Homo sapiens: one gene and its partner. Each later gene encodes a partner of the first gene's protein in a complex. Each region holds a gene or a part of one and is shown on either strand. Other genes may lie near its edges.

Region 1 (3,827 bases):
GCTTAGCACTTTGCGCATTGTGTAAGTTGGGTAACAAAAATGGCAAAAGAAATGCAGATTTCCCAGTTATCTTGCTCTGAAGACATTTCTTTAGCTAGTCTTATTTAATTTTAAAGGTTTGATAAATATACAAAGACCCAAGCATACAATTTGAGCATGCTGTATTCTACCACTTGCACTTACTCATCTTCTAGCCTTATGACCAGGAACCTTTGTTTTGGGCTCAAGTACACATCCTGATTTGGTTTCTCCCTGTTGTAATTTGAGATTTCCCAAATTAAGTCTTATAATGATTAGGTTTTGTTCTGAGTTATTTCTAGAGAAAGAAAGTATTTTAGTATGTGTAAATTGTACAATAATTTTTTTGCTGTTGTACTCACTGCTAATAGTGGATTGTATAGGGTGGTGTTTTTATTTCATTTATTGTAGACAAAAATAATGAATTTAGTATACACATACCCACTAATTCAAGTATGTCAGAGCACAAAGTTGGCAGCTGGTTATATTTAATTCAGCCCCTCTGAAAAGCACATACAGTCTATACTTTGTTTATAAATACCCTAGGTCCTCCCTGCCCCTAAATATATATTTTGGTGAAGCTGTGGTGCACTATTAATTTTCTGTTTCAAAATGCAATCTAAAGATGCAATAAATATGATGACCTTGATAGTTTTAATGAAATCTTCAATTCTTGCAGCTGTGTTTTGGAAAGTGATTAAGCAATATTTCTCAAACCTGATGATTCTTGGATATTTAGCTATTGTCCTCCAAAGAGTCATCGTTTCACGTTTTCAAACATGTGCTTTGTGCTGAAGATTCTTGTCAGATATCCTGTGCTTCCAGAGTATTTTTATCTTCAATTTTATTTAATTTTGTTTCATTTTGTTTTCATAAGACAATGTTTCAGATATGTAATGGGGCAAACCACTATAGATTTCTGTTGGATAGAAAAATGAAATGTTACTAATAAGTTTAAATTGACCCTTCGTTGACTATCAGTACTGTTGATACATTTATTAGAATGTATGTCTCAGAAGATGGTTTCTGTTTAAATTTATGGTCAAGTTACAACAACTGAATTCTAATATGGATTAAAAACTCCACATAAATATTTTTCCCCATGCGTCTTGGGTTATAATTTTCCTTTTAGACTTGCAAATATGCTTTTATTGCAATTTTGTCTCCATCTGTACTGTAGAATTACAAGCCTTGTGCTCTTTATCTCTACATTTTCCACTTCTACATGATGCAATTAAGATGCCAATGAAAAGTATTGTGAACATTATTCTCAGGACACTTTTACCATACTTGAGTAGTACTAAGTCAGGTGTAACATGGAAAGCTAAGGGTTTCACCTTCTGATTTTGACATAATTGGAAATTTTCTATAATGGTAAGATGTTTATAGGAAAGTAATGGTAGTTCATGTTTGAGAATTTTTTTATTGCTTTCATTTCCCAGTTAAATGATATTTAACACCTGGGAAAACAGGACAGCTCAGATTGTCGAGTTAGTAAACATGAGCGATGTAAAAACTTTATTTGAAATCTCCTAAGTGAGACATTAAACATTTTAGTGCTAGTTTAAGCCATTAAAAGTAAAGTTTAAGTTTACGTCATTGTCTCAAGTGTGGCTGTAAAAATCAGATCTAGAGTTTAGAGACATACTTGTTAACTTTGGAGCACAGGTTTGATATTTATGCTTCTAAATACATTAAAACATTTCTGAATTGCAGTTGAATGGTTGGAGATTGCTGGCGATGTGATGCTGCACTGAAAAAACTGGTCACACAAAATGTTTATATGTTTGACTGCATAAGTATTATTTTAGGTCATAAAGGTTATAACAAAATACATTTAACATTGCTTTCTTTTTAGCAAGAGGTCACAGATGCTATTTTTTCTCAGTTTTTAATGCTTTAATTTGAAAGAAAAATGCATCCTAACCATTCCATCCTGTTGGTGCAGAGAAATTTTGGTGATTTATTAGAAGACTTTTAAGGAGGGTGGATACATAGTTTTTCAACTGCAAAAATCATGTCATCTCTTCAGTAACTGTTAAAGTGTAATTCTCTGCCTTCATTATCAAGTCCAGGACAGTGTTTATTTTGAATCGTTAACATTATTTAAAGACTGAAAATTCATTGCAATTAGGGAACGCACAGCCTCACAAAAAGTGGTTGTGATTGCAAGGATTCTTTATGTCAGTGAACTTAAAAAGGGAATGGGGGAAGAGATGCATGCCTTTCTAAAGGTATGCTAGAGTCACCTGTGTAGCATTGTAATTATGTACTATCAAACCCCCAAGATGCTGATGATAGGCCTTCTCTGTAAGAATCCTTCTCATAGTGAAGCACTGTTGATGTTTTGTTCACCGGATATGTTGGGTAGCAGAAAAGGCCTAGAACCAGTTTTAAGATTATGCCTACATCTCTAGAAGACTAGTACACTGGCATCATCTTAGGTTTCTAAATATTATTTAATTCCTTAATTTGGAAAGCAGTTTTAATGTTTACAGTTTAAGATACTCATTTTCAGTAACTAGTGTTAAAGATTTTTATCTTTGCCTGTCTACTGTAACTTAAGACTTTCATAGAATAATTTTTTATAGAGTATATGGTATATTGTGTCAATCTTGGAAGGAAAGCTGTTGCATATCAATTGTAGGTCATGTATTTTACTATATGTTGCATAGTATTTTGCATTCTGTAAATACGAATGTTAAAACATTTCAGGTCAGCAAAATTAGAAGTCATTTCTAGTCCTCAAAGCAGAAATAATTAGAAATGTTAACATTTAAGTGCTTATCATATGCCAGATACTATTCTGAATATTTTATGTATATTCATTCATTTAGTTGTCATATTGGCTTTATGTGACATAACTGTCATTATACCAGTGTTGTCCAAGGTTGCTAGCAGGAAATGGCAGAGCCAGGAGTTGGACCTAGGTTTAATCCTATCCATATTCCATGTTACAAATTGACATGATTTTCCATATTAAAAAATTTTCATTTATTTTGTACCTCATTCACATGAATAGTAATGTGACAAACTAAAGTTAATACATGAAGCATTGCAATATGGAATTTTGCACATTTTTGTTAGCTTTACATTATTTGCTGATACCAACTTTTGGTAGGAAGGAAAACAGGGAAGGTGATTGCTGCTATTCTGGAATGTGTCCATTGAAAAGAAAATAGGCGCTTTGTCTCCTACAATCTTAGAGAAAGTTTTACATACTTAAGTGGGTACCACAGATAGGCATGTACCTTAAATTCAAATCTACAGTTTTACAAAATGTTTTCCTTTGTGTGCCTTTCCTATGTCAAATTAGCCAGAAGGAAGAAGAGACGTTAAGAATGGCAGATAAATTTAACAGGTAATGATACAGAGATTGGCCATTACGCCAGCTCTCAGGAGAAAAACAACTAGGATGTCTTGAAACCCGTGCATTTAATTTTAGAAATGGCAAATTTGTAAGCGTGTCATTTAAGTAATTTGATGCTCAGTTTTAGGGTCTAAGTTGACCTCGAGTGAGCCATGCAAAAATAGCTTTAAAATTATACATGAGCAGCTCAAAGTAAACGTGTATTTTTTAGTAACAATGAAATTGTCAAATTTCAAGATTTTAATAACAGGACAGTTCAACTAATAAACTTTATTGCATACAAGATTTATTGCAATGTGGGAAAATTAAAATTCTCAGTCTCAGAATTCTTTCTGCAGTTGTGATTCTTGAATAAATGCCTCAGCACGATGTCTGGTATGTAGTGGATGTAGGCACTCAGTAAATCTTCAGATGAATGTGCTAAATGATCACTCAGTGT
Region 2 (2,877 bases), on another chromosome or scaffold:
AAAGAGCAACCTAGCTCCAGAAGAAAGAAACCTGAGTCCCCATTTCCTTAGCTTTTTATTCCACCAGGGCCCCTGCCCATCTGATGGTGCTCACCTGCAACCACGGCTCTCACGCCGGTCACCTCTGGAAGCACAGACTCACTGGGGCGGCCTGGCCATTCGAATCAAGTACCAAGCCGCCTGGGTTTCCCTTCCAGCACTGAGAATACGTAATGTGTCCCCGGGCGTCTGGGTATCCCCGAATCCAATCAAGTTGACACCTGAGTCACCTGCCACTCAGTGGGGAAAGCAGGCCTGGGGTGCCTGAATCACCAGACTGCGCTGCCGGTGAATGGTGGATCTGGCGTTCTCACGCCCGAGCCTCATGGGCAGCTGTGTCATTGTCATTTTGTTCCAGATCAGGTCAGAACAGAACAATGTGGCCACTGATTGATTTTCTCTTCCTCTCCTCCCTCCACAGACCGCGGCCTTCAGTGTCACAGCGTGGCCTTGCTTGTCTGCCACAGCGGGAGCTAAGCCGGCCCTGGGCCAGCACTCCGAGAGGTGGAAGGGGCCCTGCCAGCTCTGGGGAGCAGCAGCCTTGGGCTGTTCTGAGCTTTAGGCAAGAGAAGAGAAGCATCTCTTGCATCCGTGCCCCTGGGGGCCTCTTCAGCTTTGCAGTGGTTTGTGGGAAGACATACCTCCCAGAGGGGCATGGACTGCCACCAGGACTGACCCTGGCGTCGGGGAGAAGGACACTTGCAGAGCCTTGAGATCACCTGTTTGGCAGGTCCTGGACTGGGGCCGGGCAGGCAGGGGCAGGGAGGCGCCCCGGGTGGGCTTTGGGGCTGCGGCACTGCCACACATCCTTTCCCTCCTGGCCTGCCCTGCTGGGGCTCTACTGCCATCTATAGATGGTGTCCTGGGCCTGGGAAACTAGGTTCCCAGGGGTTGAGACCAGAAAGGTGACCAAGACAGATTTTTTAAGGTGCAGAAACTGCAGGGGGGCCTCAGTGACATCCATGAGGCCTTATTAGCAAAGGACACCCAGACCTCCAAGGTTTGTGGGCCCCTTCCACAAAGCTGTAAGTCCCAGCCCACCTACTCAGGGCCTTGCTCAGTGCTGTGGCCCGGTGGGGACACAGTTGCTCGTGGCCACTCAGTGGAGCTGGGCCTGCAGCAGACTCAAGGCTCCGAGTGCCCTGGGGGTCACCCCTCCCCTCCCCTCCTCAGAGCCCACCCTGAGAGGCAGCAGTGACCCCCATGGCACACACCTGCCAACAGCACTGGGGGCTTCTCCCCAGGAGACCACGCTGCCCTCCAAGACCAGGAGCAGCTGTGAGCTGGAGACAGCAGAGGGACCCCAGGGTGTCCCCTGCAGATCCCACCAGGGCCGCATCCATCTCAGTGTGGAGGACAGTGACGGGACCCTCACCATCCTCTTGCGTTTTGGCCCCCATTTGCTCCCTGAGCTCCAAGATAAGAATGGCCCCGAGAGAACTGCTGAACATTTGTTCATTGCTGTCACCTCCTGAGTCACTGGGGTCCCTCACCAGCACCTCCCTGACACCTGGGCTATGGAGAGGTTGGCGCCTGTCAGTGACCATCCTAATGCCTCTCGCTCACTCCCAAGCCACCATTTGAGAGGGAGGGGTGTTGGTGCCCTGACAGGGACTGGGCAGGGTGTCCAAACTTGGGGCTTCCCAGGCACCTGCAGTGTGAACACTGCTTGGCTGGCTCAAGATTAGGGCCGCGGAGGGGGCTGTGCACATACCAGTTACTTAAGCAGCCACGAGTGTCCCCCATGCCTTGGTGCGGGTCCTGGAGGCCTCTTGGGGGTGGGACCTTTGGGCAGGGTTTGCCCACTGACACGCCCGCCATGGGGCACTGGCTGCATGGGGCTCCTTGGACCCTGTAGACCCAGCAGACCCCGCCTGTGTCAGGCCAGCTGCCCGAAGGCACTTGGCTGTGGTCCCAGGGGACGGCTCTGCTGGCACACTCAGGAGCCTGGCCGCGGGGACTGCAGGGAGGGTGCCTGGACCCGTGGGGTTGCTTCATTGAGATAAAGCACACTTATCACATAGCACAAAGGACGTGCCATGGTGCTTTCCCCAAAAGTTGTGTTGCTTTTATCAGTTTTCTAACTTAATAAAAAGAGTTGAGAAAATTCTTTGCCTGCCTTGTGTGCTGGGATCAGTCTTGGAGACATTGCTGGTGGCTGACTTTGGTCTTGTCCCACCAGCCAAGGCTCAAGGCCTGCCTGCTGGCATCTGCCCCTCTCATGAGCTGGGAAGGGGGAACCCACCCAGATGAGAGGTCTCCCCATTCCTGTGCCTCCTGAAGTTGCTTTAGAAGCCATGAAGTTGATTCCGTGGAGAGTCCTGATCCTGTCTGCCCCTCCTGAGAGTGATTCTCTCCTGGAAACTCTGGTAAATAGAAGTTGGGAATGTAATTCCATCCATTCGAAAAGGCAGAACCTCCAGTTGATGCTCCTTTGTCTGAAAATAACCCGAGCGCCATTCAGAGGGGCGAAATGGCTCCAGGAGGCAGCTTCACGGCCGCAGCGCCAGCTCACGGCACCGTTGCGCCCACTGGTTGCACCGTGGGCCCTGGGCTACCTGCCCTCCTTGTGCGTTTTCATAGTCACCATGAACCTCATGAGCTCAAGCGTATGCTCACGGGTAAACATCGTGTTCTGTGTTTTGTGATCTCACCTTCAGGCGCCCCTCAGACAGCGGGCAGCCCGAGAAGGTCATGCCGTGGCGCAGCCTGCGTGCAGGGTGGCTCTGCTGTGAACAGGAACCCGGAGGTGCCCCAGCACGGTGGCTCTCAGCAGTGGCTTCCGTGGTGCTCAGTGGTGTGCTGGCCCACAAAATCCAAATAGCGCCTTCACAGTGT

The links.
Region 2: CUL3 (region 1) and KLHL25 share a complex: the UniProt entries of both Homo sapiens proteins name them as parts of the BCR(KLHL25) E3 ubiquitin ligase complex.

What each region holds. Positions count from the first base shown.
Region 1 is NC_000002.12:224,470,037-224,473,863, reverse strand, and holds the end of CUL3 (cullin-3), read left to right. Parts: 3' UTR 1-3,714; downstream 3,715-3,827. UniProt on the Homo sapiens protein: Core component of multiple cullin-RING-based BCR (BTB-CUL3-RBX1) E3 ubiquitin-protein ligase complexes which mediate the ubiquitination and subsequent proteasomal degradation of target proteins.
Region 2 is NC_000015.10:85,758,595-85,761,471, reverse strand, and holds the end of KLHL25 (kelch-like protein 25), read left to right. Parts: intron 1-460; 3' UTR 461-2,146; downstream 2,147-2,877. UniProt on the Homo sapiens protein: Substrate-specific adapter of a BCR (BTB-CUL3-RBX1) E3 ubiquitin ligase complex involved in various processes, such as translation homeostasis and lipid synthesis.